4 separate regions of the Homo sapiens genome follow, and all the other regions are linked to region 4. Evidence: fine-mapped expression QTL. A gene starts in region 4. Each other region holds a variant in brackets. All regions are shown on one strand. Distances are between the middles of the regions.

Region 1 (5,172 bases), 270 kb after region 4:
GGAGACAGGAATTGGGCCAGGAGTGGCTCACTTGAAGATAATATTGGAGAAAGTGACAGAGCATCAGGCATTAGATTCTCATAGGGACAGCGCAACGTAGATCCCTCACATGCATGGTTCACAATGGGGTGCATGCTCCTATGAGAATCTAATGCTGCTGCTGATCTGAGAGAAGGCAGAGCTCAGGCAGGAATGTGAGCAATGGGGAGTGGCTGTAAACACAGATGAAGCTTCCCTCATTCAACACCATTCACCTCCGGCTGTGTGGCTCCTTACAGTTCCATGGCTCTGGCGTTGGGGACCCTGCCCAAGTACATCCAGAAGGACCCTTCCACACCAGTCTTCATAGTGGTCAAGTGCAGCAGCCACTTAGCTCCCAAGGCATATGCCACAGCTGGCATTTCATCACAATCAACACTAAGTGGTAGCTTGAGTCATTGTGAGGTCACTTCCTGGAAATCAACAGCATCCCATTTCCCATTGCAAGGAGCTCAGCACGGCCCCTAAGATAACCAAACTGATCCCCAAATCCCATCTGTGTGGGTCTGTCTCCTGGGACCCTTCCCAGCATCAACTCTGTATTAGTCAGGGTCCAATCAGGAGACATAAACCACTCAAAAGCCCAAAGTGCTAAAATTTAATATAGATAATTATTCATTATAACAGGGGAACAGCATGAGAGATTGGCTAGCACAAAGTAAAGAGAATTCTAGAGAATATAGGACTAGCCAAAGTAAGGCATGGTGGCTCATGCCAGTAATTTAAGAAGCCAATGCAGGAGGATTGCTTGAGGCCAGGAGGTAGAGACCAGCCTGGGCAACACCCTGTCTCTATCCAAAAAAAGAAAAAAATTAGCTGCGTGTGGTGGTGCATACTCATAATCCCAGCTACTCGGGAAGCTGAAGTAGGAGGGTAGTTTGAGCCTGTGAGGTCAAGGCTACAGTGAGTCATGATTATGGCACTATAGTCAAGCCTGGGTGACAAAGCAAGACCCTGTCTCAAAGAACAAAACAACTATTTACACACAGAAAAGAAATAGGGCTAATAATGTATAAGATGTTGAAATGTGACAAATAAAGTAATAATAAAATCATAAAACAAAAAATAACTTATTAAATTATAATACCCTGTGCTGGCAAAGATGCAGTGAAATGGGCACTTTCTTATACAATGAGGGGTGTTTAAATTGTATGTAAGCCTTTCACGGTAAAGCTTCCAATTGTTTATTTATTTATTTATTTTTTTTTGAGATGGAGTTTCACTCTTGTTGCCCAGGCTGGAGTGCAATGGTGCGATGTCGGCTCACCACAACCTCCACCTCCTGGGTTCAAGTGATTCTCCTGCCTCAGCCTCTGAGTAGCTGGGATCACATGTGTGTGCCACCACACCCAGCTAATTTTGTATTTTTAGTAGAGACAGGGTTTCTCCATGTTGGTCAGGCTGGTTATCGCAAGCCAGAACTCAGGTGATCCACCCACCTCAGCCTCCCAAAGTGTTGGGATTACAGGCGTGAGCCACCACACCTGACCAGCAATTTTTTTAATAATAGAGACACTGTCTCACCCTACTGTCTCCTCCAAATCCTGGGGTCAAGCAATCCTCCTGCCTTGGCCTCCCAAAGTGCTGGGATTATACCTGCGAGGCACCCAAAACCTTGTCAATTTACATCAAGGACAATGAGAATGTCCATTCACCATGACTCACTGTAATCTTTCTTCTGGAAATACCTTGCAAGACAACTGAACCTAAACAAAAGGTCATCTGCACAAACACAGTGAAAATCTGGTAGTAACTGAAGACAGAGTGGTTAAGTGAAATAAGAAACAGTTATAAGAAATTAAACTATCTGGCCGGGCGCGGTGGCTCACGCTTGTAATCCCAGCACTTTGGGAGGCCGAGGCGGGTGGATCACGAGGTCAGGAGATCGAGACCACGGTGAAACCCCGTCCCTACTAAAAATAAAAAAAAATTAGCCGGGCGTGGTGGCGGGCGCCTGTAGTCCCAGCTACTCGGAGAGGCTGAGGCAGGAGAATGGCGTGAACCCGGGAGGCGGAGCTTGCAGTGAGCCGAGACTGCGCCACTGCACTCCAGCCTGGGTGACAGAGCGAGACTCCGTCTCAAAAAAAAAAAAAAAAAAAGAAATTAAACTATCTATGGTATTTATAGGCACCTGGTAGAAGGACAGTTAATGTTAGCTGCTACTTTTTTGTTGTTTTGAGATGGGGTCACTCTGTCACTCAGGCTGGAGTGCAGAGGCCTGATCATGACTCACTGCAGTCTAAGCCTCCCTGGGCTCAAGTGATCCTCCCACCTCAGCCTCCCAAGTAGCTGGGACTACAAGAACATGCCACCACACTAGGCTAATTCATGTATATTTCTGTAGGGATGGTGATTCCCTTGATTTCTGAGACCTGTCTCAAACTCTTGGCCTTGAGCCATCCTCCTGCTTCAACCTCCCAAAGTGTTGTGATTACCGGTGTGAGCCACCACACCTGGTCAGCTGCTTTTATATTATACCACTAAATTCAAAATTATTTGTCATTAAAAATTACTATTTTCAAGGCTATGGAACAATATGTGTCGTACAGCATAAGTGTAAAAACATATATGGTCGTCCGTCAGTATACAGAAAGGATTCGTTCCAGCCCCCCATCTCTGCATATACCAAAATCCATGCATACTCACGTTTCGCAGTCAGCCCTTTGGAACCCATGTATAGGAAAAGTCCAAATTATTAGTTGGGCATTGTGGCAAGCACGTACAGTCTCAGCCACCTGGGAGGCTGAGGTGGGAGGACTGCTTGAGCCTGAGAGGTTGAGGATGCAGTCAGCTGTGATAGCACTACCGCACTCCAGCCTGGACAACAGAGCAAGACCCTGTCTCAGGAAAAAAAAAAAAAAAAAAAAAAAAGGTTAGAAATTGTAATGATGTCTGTTGGGCAAAATTCCATGTAAGCAAAGTATAAATTAATGGAGCAATTGGTGATAAATCACTACGATTGACTTTCTGGAGTTTCTGACAATAAGGGTAAGAAAAATGCAAAACAAAGAGACAGAGGGTAAAAAAACAAATT[A/G]GGGAAGGATTCTACATGTTTAATAGGATGACACTGGCCATGTTCGTGCAGCAGCAGTATGTCACAATATGACATACCTTGGAGAGAAGTTAGCAGATGAGGAAGTTGACAAAAATGATGAGAGATGCAAAATACTGATAGCGATAGTCAAGTAAACCATGAAGAATTTCCATAACTGACATCAGCAAAGTGGGAATATTGTACAGTGTGTGTTGAAGTTCCTGTACAACAGTGTTTATTTGCCTTCTGTTTGTTTGTAAGGAATGTATTTACTAAAAGTTCTTCTTGCTGTCAAAAGAATATGTGTAAGTCATTAGAATTTATTCTTCTGTTTTTCTTTTTTAGAGATAGAGTCTTGCCCTGTCACCCAGGCTGGAGTGCAATGGCACGATCTCAGCTCACTGCAACCTCCACCTCCCAGGTTCTAGCGATTCTCCTGCCTCAGCCTCCCGAGTAGCTGGGATTACAGGCACGTGCCACCACGCCTGGCTAAATTTTTTTGTATCTTTAGTCGAGACGGGGTTTCAACATGTTGGCCAGGCTGGTCTCGAACTCTGACCTCGCGATCCACCCACCTCGGCCTCCCAAAGTGCTGGGATTACAGGCGTGAGCCACCGCGCCCGGCCTATTATTCTGTTTTTCTACTTTATCTTCTGGCCATCATCCCACAGCCTTAATTTGGAAATTTGTTTTTTAGAAAATCGAACAAGTGCTTGTTGTGGTGGCTCATACCTCTAGGATGGGAGGCAGGGGTAGAAGGGTCACTTGAGGCCAGGAGTTTGACACCAGCCTGGCCAACAAAGTGAGACCCCATGTCTACAAAACAATTTAAAGAATAGCCAGGTGTCATCATATATAACTACAGTCCCAGCTACTCAGGAGGCTGAGGCAGGAGGAGCCTTAGCCTAGGAGTTCAAGGCTACAGTGAGCTGTGATTGCACCACTGTACTCCAGCCTGGGTTGCAGAGGAGACCCCATCTTCTAAAACAAAACAAAACAAAAAAAGGAAAGAAAATAGGTAAAGTAGCAAGTTGTACGTGGCTTACTCTGAATATGTCTAAACTACATGTTCCCAATCTTTTTGGGTCTAGCATCCCTTTACATTTTTTAACTCTATTGAAGATCTCTTAAGCCTTTTTCTTTATATAAATAATTATATTAAAATTAGAAAATAAGACAAATTTTAAAATATTATTCATTACATATTAATAATAAAACCATTTCATGTTGATATAGTACAGGACAAATTTTTAAAATATACATTCATTACACATGAATAATAAAACCATTACAAGTTGACGTAAGTAGTACTTTTTTTTGGGGGGGAAACAAAGTCTGACTTACGCACGCTGGAGTGAAGTGGCACGATCTTGACTCACTGCAACCTCCGCCACCTGGGTTCAAGCAATTCTCCTGGCTCAGCTTCCCAAGTAGCTGGCATTACAGGTGCCCACCAACATGGCTGGCTAATTTTTATGTTTTTTTAGTAGAGATGTGGTTTAGCCATGTTGGCCAGGCTGGTCTCGAAATCCTGACCTCAGGTGATCACCTGACCTCAGGTGATCACCTCGGTCACCCAAAGTGCTGGGATTACAGGCGTAAGCCATTGTGCCCACACTGATTAATATATATAATTATATATATTACATATATTAATATATATTTACATATACATTAATGTTTACATACATATTAATATATATTTGCATGTATATTTATATATTAATATATTTACATATATTTTTATACATTATATATATTTACATATATATTTATTTATATATATATATATTTTTTGAGACAGAGTCTCGCTCTGTTCCCCAGGCTGGAGTGCAGTGGCACAATCTCGGCTCACTGCAAGCTCCATCTCCCAGGTTCATACCATTCTCCTGCCTCAGCCTCCCCAGCAGCTGGGACTACAGGTGCCCACTGCCACGCCCGGTTGATTTTTTTGTATTTTTAGTAGAGATAGGGTTTCACCGTGTTAGCCAGGATGGTCTAGATCTCCTGACCTCGTGATCCGCCCGCCTCGGCCTCCCAACAGATTCATATATTTTTTAAAACACTGATTAGTCAGGCAGCAATACTGGGCAGGGGTC
Region 2 (5,172 bases), 320 kb after region 4:
CCCCAATATGTTCTTCCATCAGTAGGTAGTAAGCATAAAGCAAAACAAAATAAGCAACTACCTGATCCTCTTTTGAATGGCAAGATCTTTCATCTCATCATCAGTAGTTTCTGGACAGAACACATATTTATAGAGATGAGTCATGATGTACTTTTCAATCTGATCCATTTATCTTCTCAACTCATTCTGGAGGCACTGAAATAGCCAAACAGAAAAGCTCAAGAGAGTATATATACTCCTTGTACTGATAGTAAGTAAGCCACTCCTTGTACTGGCAGTAAGCATAAAAGTACTCACAGATTATATTAATCCTTCAGGAGAGTAAAACCCATCCATTAACATTATTTCCAGTATCCACTGTTGCAGGATTTTTCCTTAGTTCAGCTAAGGACGGGGTCCTTGTCCGTCTCAAGGCCACAAAAATTTAGGCTTACAGACGGTTTGAATGGTGAGTAAGGCAGGGTTTTATTGGGACTCTCACAAGGCCAGAGTCCCTGCTAGAGTGCTTTCTGCCAGCAGCTAGAATAATGGGTTTTACACAGTAAGAAGAGGTGCCAGGCTCCTCCCCGCTATCAACGGTGCAAACTTCAAGTTCCACCCCAGTGCACAGGCCAGCTGGAGTTTTTCTGGGGACCCCTTCCTACCTAGTGGTGTCTCACCATGACCATCTCATTCTTTTTGCTATATCTACATACTCTTAAATAGATTTAATGCATGTTTTGATAATTTACATATTTTATGGACACTTCTATTTATCTAACCCACCAAACATTTTTGGTGGCTTTATAGCATTGCATTATATTAACTGACTTATTCAACTCTCCTCTACCGCTGTGCATTTGGGTTGCTTCCCCTCTTTCATTGTTGTGCACTGTAGCAATAAATAATTTTGTAAGGACTATCTTCTTCTGAGTTAAATTCTCTGTGATACATTTCCAAAAGTGGCATTAACCACTTAATAAGAATAAACACCGTTACAGCACTAAGTATCTATTGCTAGCCACACTCCTCGGAAACTCAGTGCACACTGTCATTAACCACGTGTATGCGCTTATTTCCCTATGGCCCTTACAACAGTGGGCTTGATAATTTGTATTTGGTTTTACTGATTTTATACATAGAATATATGCATTTATTCCTCACTTTCTGCCAAAGAATATTTAAAGTCTATTTAAAAGATAAATGCAGTTCAGCACAACGGACTAGAAAATAAAAAGAGTAACAAATAACTGTAATCCCAGTGCTCTGGGAGGCTGCAGCTAGAGGATCGATTGAGCCTAGGAGTTTGAGACCAGCCTGGGCAACATAGTGAGAACCCATCTCAAGAAAGAAAAGAAAAGAAAAGGAAAAGAAAAGAAAAGAAAGATAATTTTAAAAATTTTTTTAAAATTTTAGGCCGGGCTTGGTGGCTCACGTCTGTAATCCCAACACTTTGGGAGGCCAAGGTGGGCAGATCACAAGGTCAGGAGATGGAGACCATCCTGGCCAACATGGTGAAACTCAGTCTATACGAAAAATACAAAAACAAAAGTATCCGGGTGTGGTGGCGGGCACCTGTAGTCCCAGCTACTCAGGGGGCTGAGGTGGGAGAATGGTGTAAACCTGGGAGGCGGAGCTTGCAGTGAGCCGAGATTGCACCACTGCACTCCAGCCTGGGCAACACAGAGAGACTCCATCTCAAAAAAAAAAAAAAAAAAAAAAATCACACATGGAGAGAGACCTAAATGACAAGACAGAAATGTTTTCCTGGAAGATGTCTAAATTAGTCAAGAGTCAGCCCATACATCTGTCTCTAACTAAACTTCTTAGCAATCATCATTAAGATGAAAACAGTTACGTAATTCAGGGTTCAAAAGATGAAAGCATGGTGTTTTTTAATTGGAGCATTTAGTCCATTTACATTTAAAGTTAATATTGTTATGTGTGAATTTGATCCTGTCATTATGATGTTAGCTGGTTATTTTGCTCGTTAGTTGATGCAGTTTGATGAGTTCATGTCCTTTGTAGGGACATGGATGAAATTGGAAATCATCATTCTCAGTAAACTATCGCAAGAACAAAAAACCAAACACTGCATATTCTCACTCATAGGTGGGAATTGAACAATGAGATCACATGGACACAGGAAGGGGAACATCACACTCTGGGGACTGTTGTGGGGTGGGGGGAGGGGGGAGGGATAGCATTGGGAGATATACCTAATGCTAGATGACAAGTTAGTGGGTGCAGCGCACCAGCATGGCACATGTATACATATGTAACTAACCTGCACAATGTGCACATGTACCCTAAAACTTAAAGTATAATAATAAAAGAAAAAAAAACTTAAAAAAAAAAAAGATGAAAGCAAACAAATTCTTCAGGTGAAATTCTGACACCAAAATCAAAAATTTCTCCCAATGGTTCTCACAAGGATGTCACAGTAGAAGAACATGAATAAGGCTGAGAACAAACCCCCAGGACTGGCTGTCACAGACCTCATCTACACAGGCCACTGACCTCACACGCCAAGCACCGATACATCCTGTGGAAGCCTGCAGCAGTCGACCATCTGGCTTAACTCTAAAAGGAAGGCAGGACACTGGGGGTCAGGGGCAGTCACCTCATTCCCTCAGTGAAAATGGCCAAGCACTCAAGCACACATGTGATCATGGTGATCACAAGTCATGGGATCACCTTGACTGCAGCCCTAATCACTGTCAACTAGTTACCCATATACATGCCATTTGGTTGAATTAAAATTGATCCCTCA[A/T]CTATAAAAGCCTAGGTGCTACCTTTAGTAAAGTTTAGATATTTCACTATATGAAGCTCTTATTTATATTCATGACTTCCCATGTTTTATTTTTTATTGCACAGATTTTTAAAAAGTTAATACTATTAAGCCTTTTATCTGGTCATTAAAAACAATTCTTTTGGCTGGGTGCAGTGGCTCACGCCTGTAATCCCAGCACTTTGGGAGGCCGAGGCGGACGGATCACCTTAGGTCAGGAGTTCAAGACCAGCCTGGCCAACATGGCAAAACCCGTCTCTACTAAAAATACAAAAATTAGCTGGGCATGCTACTGCACACCTGTAATCCAGATACTTGGGAGGCTGAGGCAGGAGAATTGCTTGAACCCGGGAGGTGGAGGTTGCAGTCAGCCAAGATCATGCCATTGCACTCCAGCCTGGGCGGCAGAGCAACACTCTGTCTCAAAAACAAACAAATTTCTTGTAAGTTTTTAATTTTATTTCTCTTTTTTTTTTTTTTTAATATATAGAAACAAGGTCTCACTATGTTGCCCAGTCTCGTCTCAAACTCCTGGGCTTAAGTGATCCTCCTGCCTTGACCTCTAAAAGTGCTAGGATTACAGGTGTGAGCCACCGTGCCCAGGTAAAACAATTTTTTGATGGTTCAATTTTTGCTCCTCTCTACAGCTGAAATACGTATCCTAAGGTACCGTTCATATATTTTTTTCTTTTTTTTTTTTCCCCGAGATGGAGTCTCGCTCTCTCACACAGGCTGCAGTGGTGTGATCTCATTGTAACCTCTGCCTCCCTGGTTCAAGCGATTCTCCTGCCTCAGCCTCCCAAGTAGCTGGAATTACAAGCATGAACCACCACGCCCAAGCTAATATTTTATTTTTTTATTTTTTTGAGACAGTCTTGCTCTCTTGCTCAGGCTGGAGTGCAATGGTGTGATCTTGGCTCAGTGCAACCTCCACCTCCGGGTTCAAGTGATTCTCCTGCCTCAGCCTCCTGAGTAGCTAGGATTACAGGCACCTGCTACAACGCTCAGATAATTTTTGTATTTTTAGTAGTGATGGAGTTTCCCCATGTTGACCAGGCTGGTCTCAAACTCCAGTTTTTGTATTTTTAGTAGTGATGGAGTTTCCCCATGTTGACCAGGCTGGTCTGAAACTCCTAGCCTCTACTCATCTGGCTGCCTTGGCCTCCCAAAGTGATGGGATTATAGGCATGAGCCACCATACCCAGCTCATATCCTAATCTACTTTCTTCTCAATTTTTTCATGTTTAGCTCTTTGATTTGGCTGGAATGTAAGGTGCATGGTATGAAACAGAACTAAAACTCTATACAAGTGTATCTGTCATCACCATCAGCAGTTAGTAAAGCACAACCTTGTTCCCCCTCGTCCTCCAGGTGTCATGTAACTTGCTCCTGAGAAATTAAATCTATTTCTGAAATCTCTGGCTGATTTCACTGTTCCGTATTTTCATTTTTTACCCAAATCTCATCTAGGTGTGATGACTTTCATTTTAGAATATATTAAAAACTCTGCTGGATTTGGAAACATCCCCGCTTCACAAATTCTTGCTTTTTACCCCCTCACACAAAAAAAAAACATATGGTATATTTGTTTCCCTCTTTTTCTATAATAAATAATGTAACACAGTGATTCAAATGATATTTTAAGTGTTTATACTGACCTGCAAAGTATTTTTTTTTTTTTGAGACGGAGTCTCACTCTGTTGCCCAGGCTGGAGTGCGGTGGTGCAAACTTGGCTCACTGAAACCTCCGCCTCCCAGGTTAAAGCAATTCCCCTGCCTCAGTCTCCGAGTAGCTGGGACTACAGGCGTACGCCACCACGCCTGGCTAATTTTTGTATTTTTAGTAGACACAGAGTTTCGCCATGTGGGCCAGGCTGGTCTGTAACTCTTGACCTCAAGTGATCCACCTGCCTCAGCCTCCCAAAGCACTGGGAGTGTGATGACTAGGTTTTCACACTGGGTTTTCATGTGTGAGATATGCCTTGCTCAAACCTTGTTACAGCACTGGCACATTGCCTGTCGGATGTGAAGAAAGACAAAAAAAAGACCCTCATGCACATAACGGTGGAACTTGGCTCTGACAGGGTTCAGCTTGGTGGTGCTTGCTGAACACTTCCTGAATCTGACCTTCACTCATTGTGAGAGTTTCACAGAGGTTCTTCAGGTGATGGTTATTGTCTTTAATTTCTTCTTCTGGAACACACTGTGTTGCCTTCTCCAAAACATCTGCAACCTCTAACGAGTCCTTGCAGAAGCCCTGAATGCTACACATATTTGCCTCCTCCACCAATTTTTGGCTGCTCTGCTGCAAGCCCTCAGTATCTGCCAATGCTTGCTTATCTTCTTCCACAACCTCCTTCAGTTGCTCTTCTAACTTGACTTCTTCCATGAGTATCTTGTCC
Region 3 (5,142 bases), 160 kb before region 4:
TCCTCTCCTTAAATTCATTACTTTCAAATGATGTTCAAAGCATTGACTATTTTCATTCAAAGAAACTACATTCGGCCGGGCACGGTGGCTCACGCCTATAATCCCAGCACTTTGGGAGGCCGAGGCGGGTGGATTACCTAAGGTCAGGAGTTCAAGACCAGCCTGGCCAGCATAGTGAAACCCCATCTCTACTAAAAATACAAAAATTAGCCAGGCGCAGTGGCACACCCCTGTAATCCCAGCTACTCGGGAGGCTGAGGGAGGAGAATTGCTTGAGCCCGGGAGACAGAGGTTGCAGTGAGTCAAGATCATGCCACTGCACTCCAGCCTGGCCAACAGAGCGAGACTGTCCCCCCCCCAAAAAAAAAAGAGAGAGACTGCATTCAAAGAGGACCAAGACTACAGTGAAATTAAAACTGTTTGCTGGCTGGGCATGGTGGCTCACACCTGTAATCCCAGCACTTTGGGAGGCCGAGGCGGTTGGATCACCTGAGGTCAGAAGTTCGAGATCAGCCTGACCGACATAGTGGAACCCTGTCTTTACTAAAAATACAAAAATTAGCTGGGCATGGTGGCGGCACCTGTAATGCCAGCTCCTCCAGAGGCTGAGGCAGGAGAATTGCTTGAACCCAGTAGGTGGAGGTTGCAGTGAGCCACAGTTGCGCCATTGCACTCCAGCCTGGGCAATGAGTGAAACTCTGTCTCAAATAAAAAAATAAAAATAAAAACTATTTGTTGACTTTTGTTTTTCATTTAGTTTTGGAAAAGACTATTTGCAAAAGTACAGAGTTATCTTCAGCAATTACTTCACAACTTAGATTGGTACCAAGAGTGACAGGAGATCTTGTCTTGGAAGATCATTATTAGATGCCAACAAGGAGACCCACTGTGATTTCTGGTAACCTATTTGGGGAAAAAGACCTAATGACCTAATATGCAATTTCTGTCCTCGTGTCTTTTTCTCTAACACACAGTCATGGGTGAAACATTTCAGACACCTCAGGCAGCACTTATGGTTTCTAATTGTGAGAACTACCCTTCCATCAAACAAAAAGGGCAAGGGTGGGAGCCCCGGCTACTTGGTTAAACATTTTTTACTACAAATTCGCCCAGAAAAGGTGAAATATTTTGTTATAAAACTGTATTAAGCATGGCCTAAGTATTTATTAGGTATATGATCTGTGTAGTATGTTCCATCAGAAATATTTCTTACTAGTGCTTTAAGCTCCAGAGTAAACAGTCATTTAAAATGGAGTTCACTGGGCAGGTTTCCCCTTTAATCTAGATAGAAATACTCTTTATCAGAGATTTAAGGCACTGTTTTGCTAACTGGTAAATAAAACCAAATGTAAATATGTAAGAATGTTTATTTGTTGCACATAACTTTTTTGGTATAAAATAAATGTAGAAGTTACCTGTGGAAGTTGTGCTCCCATTATTCTTAAACTGCAGGGTTGCATTCCAAAAGAACTGAAACGAAGTCTTTTTAGACTCAGTAGGAGCCTTATATTCTTGAAGTCAATACTGTAACCTCATTTCTAAGGTATACAGGGTTGATTCTTTTTCTCTTAAATCATATGTAACTTGCAGAAGATTCAGAGTCCTCAGACCTCTAGTTCTTGGAATTCCTGTAGGTTTACGGTGTATGTGATTGTCAAGAATTAATGACAAAAATGTGTCACTGCCTACAGTTCTGTGAACACTCAGAATGTATTAATGAGCTGTTTTTCCATAGTTTTACTTTAGCTTACCTTGAATACTCCCTGTATAATCCTCTAAAAAGGTAGCATCGGCAAGAAAGATGAATCCGTTGGAAATACAGCTGAGCCATACTTCACGGAATAGAACAAGTGTGTTCTGTGCTGGAGCTCAAGACCTGTGGAAAGGGACTGCCCCCACTGGGTGCAATGGCTCATGCCTGTAATCCCAGCACTTTGGGAGGTAGAGGCGGGTGGATCACTTGAGGTCAGGAGTTCAAGACCAGCCTGGCCAACATGGTGAAACCTGCCTCTACTGAAAAATACAGAAAAATTAGCCAGGATTGTGGTGTGCGCCTGTAATCCCAGCTATTCAGGAAGCTGAGGCAGGAGAATTGCTTGAACCAGGGAGGCGGAGGTTGCAGTGAGACGAGATCACGCCACTGCACTGCAGCCTAGGCGACAGAGGAAGACTCCAGCTCAAGAAAAAAAACAATGGACTGCCCCTAATTTGTAAACCATTTAAATGTGTCTATTACATTTAA[C/T]TTTTCTTAATGTTTGTCAACTAAAAGTTTTATTCATTATACTTTGACATACTGGAACACAAAACTTGATTCCTTTGAAAAACTAAAGAGAAGTTGATAAAAAAAATACAGAAGCTCTAGATTCCTAATTGGAACTGACTACACTCATTTTTAAAAAATGGACGATGCCTAATAAAACCACATGAAATTAACTTTATTCTTTCTTTCATGGAGCTTGCACAGGAAAGCTAAAAAGGAGGGTCTGTGTGGAGACACGGGGCTCAACCACAAGAGAGGGGAAAATCAAGTTCTATAGCAAGAACCATATTGGAGGCCGGGCACAGTGGCTCACGCCTATAATCCCAGCACCTGGGGAGGCTGAGGCGAGCAGATCACCTGAGGTCAAGAGTTCGAAACCAGCCTGGCCAACATGGTGAAACCCCATCTCTACTAAAAATATTTTTAAAAATTTAGCTGGGAATGGTGGCAGATGCCTGTAGTTCCACCTACTTGGGAGGATGAGGCAGGAGAATTGCTTGAACCCCAGAGGTGGAGGTTGCAGTGAGCCAAGATTGCGCCACTGCACTCCAGCCTGGGCGACGGAGCAAGACTGTCTCAAAACAAACAAAACAAACTGTATTGGTTCATTGTCTTTCAACTGACTGGACACCAAAAGGAGTATTTTTCCAAAGCGTATACTTCAAATCAGAATTGATGCACCATCCTTGCCTTACTGGAGCCCAGGAAGAGAGGGAGGACAGATTCCTTAAGGAAAGACTGTGCTCTGGGAGGGGGCAGGTAGCGTCATTTTGGGGTGTAAAGGCATGGAATGCTGATTTGTAGGCAAAGTTGTTTAAGGAGGTCCTGTCACATTCAGTGGCATCCGTTATGATAAAGCCAATAGGCTTTTACACTCATCTGTCCATTTCTGTCAAGACCCTATGGCTGAGGTCAAAACAATGTTCTGGGAGAACCAGTTACCTCTAACCTTCCAATTCAGACACTGCCAGCTTAACTATGTAGAAACTGGCACACAGACCCTGTTAAGTGCTGCAACAATGACAGCGTTTCTATGAATTTGTTGGTACATGTGGGACTTTAGCTCATCTGAGGAGTCGAACAGCAGCTGTGAAAGTCTTCTACTCACTCCCTGTCGAGGCTGGCCTGGTTTGCTACACAAACACGGTGGCCCTAGGACCATGGGGCTATTCCTGCAGACGCCCTCGGGAACCAGCTGCTCTGAACGTGGTGGGGGTGTTGGAGCAGCAGTTTCTCAAAAGTCCACACACAGTTAAAGCTCTGAAAACAGCACGACGCACAGAAATGATTTCAGATGCTTTTCAGTAGCCACTTTCATGCCAACTCTTTATTTCCATAATAGAAAATCTTTTATTTCCACCTTTAGTGTTCCCTGCTAGAATAGATGACCACAAAACCCAGGCCAGAAACGTTCTGGTCTGCCGTGAACAGTCCAGGAGGCACTTGTTCTGCTGCTGTGGAAGTCGCCCTGACTCGGGGAGGAAGGGACACGCAGGTGGTATCAGTCTTGCTCAAGTAAACAGGCTGTTTTCCAAACATTGTGACTTGGCTACTGAGTGGGGATACCTGGTTTCATTGGCAATCTTCCAGTATCTCTCTCGCAAAAGGAACGCTGCACTTTTTGGTTGTCTCTGCCGAGTGAAGATCCCCTTTTTATTCCCCAGCACTCTCGTCGGTGCTACAAAAAAAAAAAAAAGACACAAAGCGATTCAGATGTCTTCTGATGGGTCAAGTTAGAACCAGTCTGGAGCTAAGGTAGGCACTAAATAGAAATGTCTTTTTTTTTCTTTTTTCTCCCTGTTGCCCAGGCTGGAATGCGGTGACACAATCATAGCTCACTGCAGCCTCAACCTCCTGGGCTCAGGCAATCCTCCTGCCTCAGCCTCTCCAGCACCACCATGCCCGGTAATCTTTTATTTTTATTTTTTAGTAAAGACAAGGTCTCATTATGTTGTCCAGGCTGGTCTCAAACTACTGGGCTCAAGCAATCTGCCCTCCTTAGCCTCCCTAAAGTGCTGGGATTATAAGCACAAGCCACCATGCTCAGCCAAATGTCCTCTTACAGTTTCAGGATGCTTGCTCTGAAGTGACAATTTATGGGTTGAAATATTTAAATACCACTGCTCTGCCCAAACACCCAGGTTCCCTGGTGTGTTAATTTCTAGTTTTCTAGTCTGTTAGGGGAAAAAAACCCAAAACAGTGGCCAGGTGTGGTGGCCAACGCCTGTAATCCCAGTGCTTTGGGAGGCTGAGGCAGGTGGATCACCTGAGGTCAGGAGTTCAAGATCAGCCTGGCCAACATGAGGAAACCCGCCTCTATTAAAAATACAAAAACTGGCTGGGCACATTGGCTCATGCCTGTAATCCCAGCACTCTGGGAGGACAAAGCAGGCGGATCACAAGGTCAGGAGATTAAGACCAGCCTGGACAATATGGTGAAACCTCATCTCTACTAAAAATACAAAAATTATACAGGCATGGTGGTGGGTGCCTGTGGTCCCAGCTACTCAGGAGGCTGGGGCAGGAGAATCGCTTGAACCCAGGACGCAGAGGTTGCAGTGAGCTGAGATTGTGCCACTGCACTCCAGCCTGGGCGACAGAGTGAGACTCCATCTCCAAAAAAAAAAAAAGCACTAAAAGTTTATCTTTTATTTGCAAACTAAGGTTTACATGCTGGGTACCCAGCTGTCTGGTAACTGGGTAGGCAGAGGGCTAGGGGTATCTGGGACAGTTACCCTTGAAAAGCCTTGGGCCTTTCTGAAGAGATAGCGCCTAGTGGGAGCCAGGGTCCTGACCAGCCACAGGTCCCTGCGTGGGACCTACTCATGGAGTTCAAAGTCCGCCGGGGCTGACGTCCAGCTTGGCAGCACCCACCACTGGTG
Region 4 (5,172 bases):
GATCCACCCACCTCAGCCACCCAAAGTGCTGGGATTACAGGCGTGAGCCACCTGGCCAGGCAATATATATTATTTTGTGTCTGGCTTCTTTCACTTATTAATAGCATCATGTTTTGGGAGGTTATCCATCTTGCAGCATTTATCTATCAGTCTGTCTATATATATTTTTTGCAACAAGGTCTCTCACTCTGTAGGCTGGAGTGCAGTGGTGTGATCATAGTTCCCTGCAGCCTCTACCTTCTGGCTCAAGCGATTCTCCTACCTCAGCCTCCCCAGTAGCTGGGACTAGAGGTGCTCACCACCACACCTGGCTAACTTTTCGTAGTTAGGGGGTCTAGCTATGTTGCCCAGGCTGCTCTGGAACTCCTTGTCTCAAGAAATCCTCCTGCCTCTGCTCCCCAAAGTGCTGAGATCAAGCCTGGCCTCCTTTTTATTTTTATATTTTTGAGACAGAGTCTTGCCCTGTCTTCCAGGCTGGAGTGCAGTGGCACGATCTTGGCTCACTGCAAGCTCTGCCTTCTGGGTTCACGCCATTCTCCTGCCTCAGCCTCCCTAGTAGCTGGGACTACAGGCGCCCACCACCACGCCCGGCTAATTTTTTTTGTATTTTTAGTAGAGACGGGGTTTCACCCTGTTAGCCAGGATGGTCTCGATCTCCTGACATCGTGATCTGCCCGCCTCGGCCTCCCAAAGTGCTGGGATTACAGGCGTGAGCCACCGTGCCCGGCCAGCCTCCTTTTTAAGTAGTTTTCCATTGCACAAATGTAGCACATTTTATTCATCCACTCATCAGTCTCTAGTTAATGCATCTGTTGTATATGTTCAGATTGGCTGGGGTTCAATACCCACTGGACAACTTCCTAGATGAGTGACTTTTGGTAAATCATAATCTCTCCAAGTCTGCCTCAGTTTCTTCAATTATAAAATGTCAATAATAATGCAATGTACCTCATAGAGAGTCATGGTTGTATTGCCACAGTAATTAATAAAGTGCCAGGAACTTTATAAGGATTATTTAACACCCTTATTATTTACAAAGTAGGCAACAGAGGCTATTGTGGTGGTTCACACCTGTAATCCCAGCACTTTGGGAGTTGGAGGTGGGAGGATCACTTGAGGCGAGGAGTTCAAGACCAGCCTGGGCAACACAGTGAGACCCCCATCTCTACAAAAAAATTAAAAAATTTTGTAGCTGACTCTTTGGACAATAAAGAATTTTATTTTAGAAAATTAGCCAGGTGGCTGGGTGCAGTGGCTCACGCCTGTAATCCCAACACTTTGGGAGGCTGATGAGGGTGGATCACAAGGTCAGGAGTTCAAGACCAGCTTGGCCAAGATGGTGAAACCCCGTCTCTACTAAAAAAATACAAAAATTAGCTGGGCATTATGGCGGGCACCTGTAATCCTAGCTACTGGGGAGGCTGAGGCAGGGAACTGCTTGAATCCAGGAGGCAGAGGTTGCAATGAGCCGAGATCACGACACTGCACTCCAGCCTGGGCAACAGAGTGAGACTGATCTCAAAAAAAAAAAAAAAGAAAAAGAAAAAGAAAAAAAGAAAATTAGCCAGGTGTAGCGGAGCGCACCTGTGGTCCCAGCTACTCTGGCAGGCTGGGGTGGGAGGATTGCTTGAGCCCAGGAGTTCAAGGCTGCAGTGAGCTCTGATTGCACCACTGCATTCCAGCCTGGGCGACAGAGCAAGACCCTGTCTCTTAAAAAATAAATAAATAAACTGCAATGTTTCTGGCAGCCCAGATGCCACCAGCCTCACTACTCTCTGAGAGGTGGGATTTTAACATGCAAAGGCCCACTAACCCGATCACGTCTCACAACTTCAGCTGATTAATACTTTGTTAAAACCTAGACCACGAAAACAGACAGAGCCCGGCGAGGTGGCTCACGCCTGTAATCCCAACACTTTGGGAGGCCGAAGCGGGTGGATCACGAGGTCAGGAGTTCAAGACTAGCCTGGCCAAGATGATGAAACCCCGTCTCTACTAAAAAATACACAAATTAGCTAGGCGTTATGGCGGGCGCCTGTAATCCCAGCTACTCGGGAGGCTGAGGCAGGGAATTGCTTGAACCTGGGAGGCAGAGATTGCAGTGAGCCGAGATCGTGCCACTGCACTCCAGCCTGGGTGACAGAGCGAGACTCTGTCTCAAAAAAGAAAAAAAGAGGCTGGGCACGGTGCCTCACGCCTGTAATCCCAGGACTTTGGGAGGCCGAGGCGGGCGGATCACGAGGTCAGGAGATTGAAACCATCCTGGCTAACACGGTGAAACCCCGTCTCTACTAAAAACACAAAAAATTAGCCGGGCTTGGTGGCAAGCGCCTGTAGTCCCAGCTACTTGGGAGGCTGAGGCAGAAGGAGAATCGCTTGAACCCAGGAGGCGGAGGTTGCAGTAAGCCGAGATCCAGCCTGGGCGACAGAGCGAGACTCCGTCTCAAAAAAAAAAAAAGGTTAAAGAAAAAAAGAAAAGAAAACACAAGATAATCCTGTCCGCAAACGCTTAGCAGTCTTAAATCGGCCTGGTGGAAGGATGCAGGGACACTCCCCCACCCTGCCCCCCGAAAAAGGGGAACGCGCAGCGCGAGGTTCCGGGTCCGCCAAGCTCCCGGCATGCAGCGCGGCGATCCCGGCGAGCACCTTGGCGCGCGGAGCTGGCACCTTGGCGCTGTTGGTGGCGGCGGAGACAGCTGTGAAGTGTGAGGTTCTTTGTCTGCTGGCAGCTAGGGGCGACGAGGCGGGACGTCATGGAAGTGTAAGTCTTCTCGGGCGCGTCCCTTTTCGCCCGAGGAGCCCAACGGTTTGACCGCTGAGAGCTGAGAGCCGAGAGCCGTGGGGACTGGGCGACCCTCGTACGGGAGTGAGGGCAGCGGGCCGGCCCTGTCCGGGAGGGCCGCGGGGTGGTGACGGGGACGAACGGGACTCTCGCTTTGCCCTTCCGAACCTTCGCTTCCCCTCCACGCCGTGTCTGGTGCGGGGCCGAGCACTTCCGTGTCCGGCTGCCTTTCAATGTGCCCCCTCCTTCTCTCATTCGTTTACCAGCGTTTCTGGGTCACAGTGCGGGGGTGGAGCCCAGTCTGGTATCCGACCCCGGACTTAGAAGGCTATAAAGGCCTGAGTCTGTCCGCCCTGAAAGTAGGTGGAGGAGAGACGAATCAGGGCCGGGTAGAGCTCTGCTTGCAGCTGTAGGCCCCTGGAGAGCCCTCGGAAGAGCTGCCCTCGGAATTTGATGGGAGCAGTAAACACTGTGAGGGAAGGGGCTGGTTTTGGGGTGGAGAAGGGAAGGACGTGAACCAGGACTGGGACCAGAGAAACAGCAGGGGGTGTGTGGGTGTGTGTGCAAGGCGAGGGTAAAAGATTTTCTGACAGTTTAACTCCACGTGGTCTTTTCCATGCTTGCTCGTTGCGCCTGGTGCAAATGGAAGATTTTGCATCTACTCTGAATGTGGGCTTTATACGGTTGATATTAATTTGTAGGTATTACTATCTTGTGTTCTCTTTGAACTGATTATTTGATACAGTTTCCTTTATGTTCTTTTGCCTCATGTTTAATGGTTATATGTACTATGGCATTTCACATTTTTACATTTTTAATTAATTGTTTTTTCTTAAGAAACAGGGTCTTGCTCTGTCCCCCAGGCGGGGTGTAATCATGGTTCACTGCAGCCTCACTTTCTGGACTCAAGCAATCCTGCTTCAGCCTCTTCAGTAGCTGGGACTACAGGCCCACGCCATCACTCACCGCTAATTTTTTAAAAAAAGTTTTGTAGATGCAGGGTCTCACTACAGCCCAGGCTGGTCTCCAGCTCCTGAGCTCAAGTGATCCTCCTGCTTTGTACTCCCAAAGTCCTGGGATTGCAGGCGTGAGCCACTTCACCTGGCCTCTTCCGATTTTTTTTTAAACACAATATGTCTGTGTAACTGAAATGAAAGGCTCATGAAACAATAATGTGTGGCGTACACTCTCATATTGTCTATTTTTTATTAATATGAATGGGGCCAACCGTGGTGGCTCACACCAGCAATCCCAGCACTTTGGGAAGCTTAGGCAGAAGGATCACTTGAACCTGGGAGGTGGAGACCAGCCTGGGCAACATAGGGAGACCCTGTCTCTGCAAAAAATTAAGAAGTTAGCTGGGTGTGGTGGTTCATGCCTGTAGTCTCAGCTACTTACGAGGCTGAGATGGGAGGATCACTTGATCCCAGGAGGCTGCAATGAGCTGAGATAGAGCCACTACACTCCTGCCAGAGTGACAGTGTAAGGCTCTGTCTTAAAAAAAAAAAAAAAAAAAAATTGAACCACTGAATTAATTTTGCAACCCACTGATGGGATTTCATCTGCAACCTAAAAAACTATTCATATAATTTACTCTAGTCCAAGCCATCATTACTAATTTTTCCCTCTTTACTAGAGCATTTCCTGTGAGCATACAACCCTGCTTTAGAGAATTCATCTTAGAAAATCCTCCGTCCCCACATACATGTCCCCCTCTTACTCCATTTCTGCTTCCCATCCCAACAAAACTTCTTGAAAGTGCTGATTAGCCCCTCATTCTCTCAGCCATTCTGTTGGGCTTTCATCCTCACTGGTCTACGGGAATGACTGTTAAGATTACCTGAACCAGCGGGGCGTGGTGGCTCATGCCTATAATCGCAGCACTTTAGGAGGCCGAAGTGGGCGAATCCCCTGAGGTCAGGAGTTTGAGACCAGCCTGGCCAACATGGCATAACCTCCTCTCTACTAAAAATACAAAAATTAACTGGGTGTAGTGGTGGGCGCCTGTAATCCCAGTAACTCAGGAGGCTGAGGCAGGAGAATCGCTTGAACTCGGGAGGCAGGGGTTGCAGTGAACCAAATTGTGCCACTGCACTCCAGCCTAGGTGACAGGGCAAGACTGTCTCAAAAAAAAAAAAAAAAAAAACCTGATCCCTCCATCTTGTCAAATTCAGAGGTTGATTTTCTGGCCTCAACTTTCTTGATCTCTCAGCAGTGGTTAATACAGAAACTCTAGAAACTTTCCTTTTCTTGTGATGTATGTTCCTTTGCGTATTTCCTCCTACATCAAGGACTACTTCAGTGTCCTTCCCTGGGTCCCGTTCCTCTCTTGCTTGATGTCTAAGTGTTGAGTGGTATCTTAGGGCTCAGTCCTGGGACCCTTTCTCTCC

Alleles and levels. Alleles are on the strand shown, and positions count from the first base shown. SD is a standard deviation of normalised expression in the study named. Not every link is listed here.
For the expression in esophagus mucosa of the gene that starts at base 2,638 in region 4, T is the high allele of the variant in region 2 and A is the other (large effect, 0.79 SD a copy in GTEx).

What was found. PIP is the estimated chance that this variant, and not a neighbour inherited with it, causes the effect.
Region 1: its variant is the best candidate, but not a certain one, in a credible set for the expression of CRCP in whole blood (INTERVAL, PIP 0.54).
Region 2: its variant is the best candidate, but not a certain one, in a credible set for the expression of CRCP in esophagus mucosa (GTEx, PIP 0.71).
Region 3: its variant is the best candidate, but not a certain one, in a credible set for the expression of CRCP in whole blood (INTERVAL, PIP 0.56).

The regions. Positions count from the first base shown.
Region 1 is chr7:66,379,552-66,384,723 of GRCh38, forward strand. LINC00174 (long intergenic non-protein coding RNA 174) reads right to left here. Exons shown (of 5, transcript NR_026873.1): 4 at 2,686-2,880; 5 at 1-452. Among named protein-coding and RNA genes, the nearest start is that of LINC00174, 18 kb to the right of the region's middle. The variant A/G (reference allele first, on the strand shown) is at 3,074.
Region 2 is chr7:66,429,823-66,434,994 of GRCh38, forward strand. It overlaps the pseudogene RABGEF1P2, the pseudogene LOC124901855 and the pseudogene GRPEL1P1. Among named protein-coding and RNA genes, the nearest start is that of LINC00174, 32 kb to the left of the region's middle. The variant A/T (reference allele first, on the strand shown) is at 2,753.
Region 3 is chr7:65,957,126-65,962,267 of GRCh38, forward strand. It overlaps VKORC1L1 (vitamin K epoxide reductase complex subunit 1L1), which reads left to right. Exons shown (of 3, transcript NM_173517.6): 3 at 1-2,433. It overlaps GUSB (glucuronidase beta), which reads right to left. Exons shown (of 12, transcript NM_000181.4): 12 at 3,559-3,938. The coding sequence ends at 3,772. Among named protein-coding and RNA genes, the nearest start is that of GUSB, 23 kb to the right of the region's middle. The variant C/T (reference allele first, on the strand shown) is at 2,243.
Region 4 is chr7:66,112,210-66,117,381 of GRCh38, forward strand. CRCP (CGRP receptor component) reads left to right here and starts at 2,638. Exons shown (of 6, transcript NM_014478.5): 1 at 2,638-2,761. The coding sequence starts at 2,754. RefSeq lists silencers at 1,514-1,704, 3,133-3,427 and enhancers at 2,351-2,480, 3,018-3,546.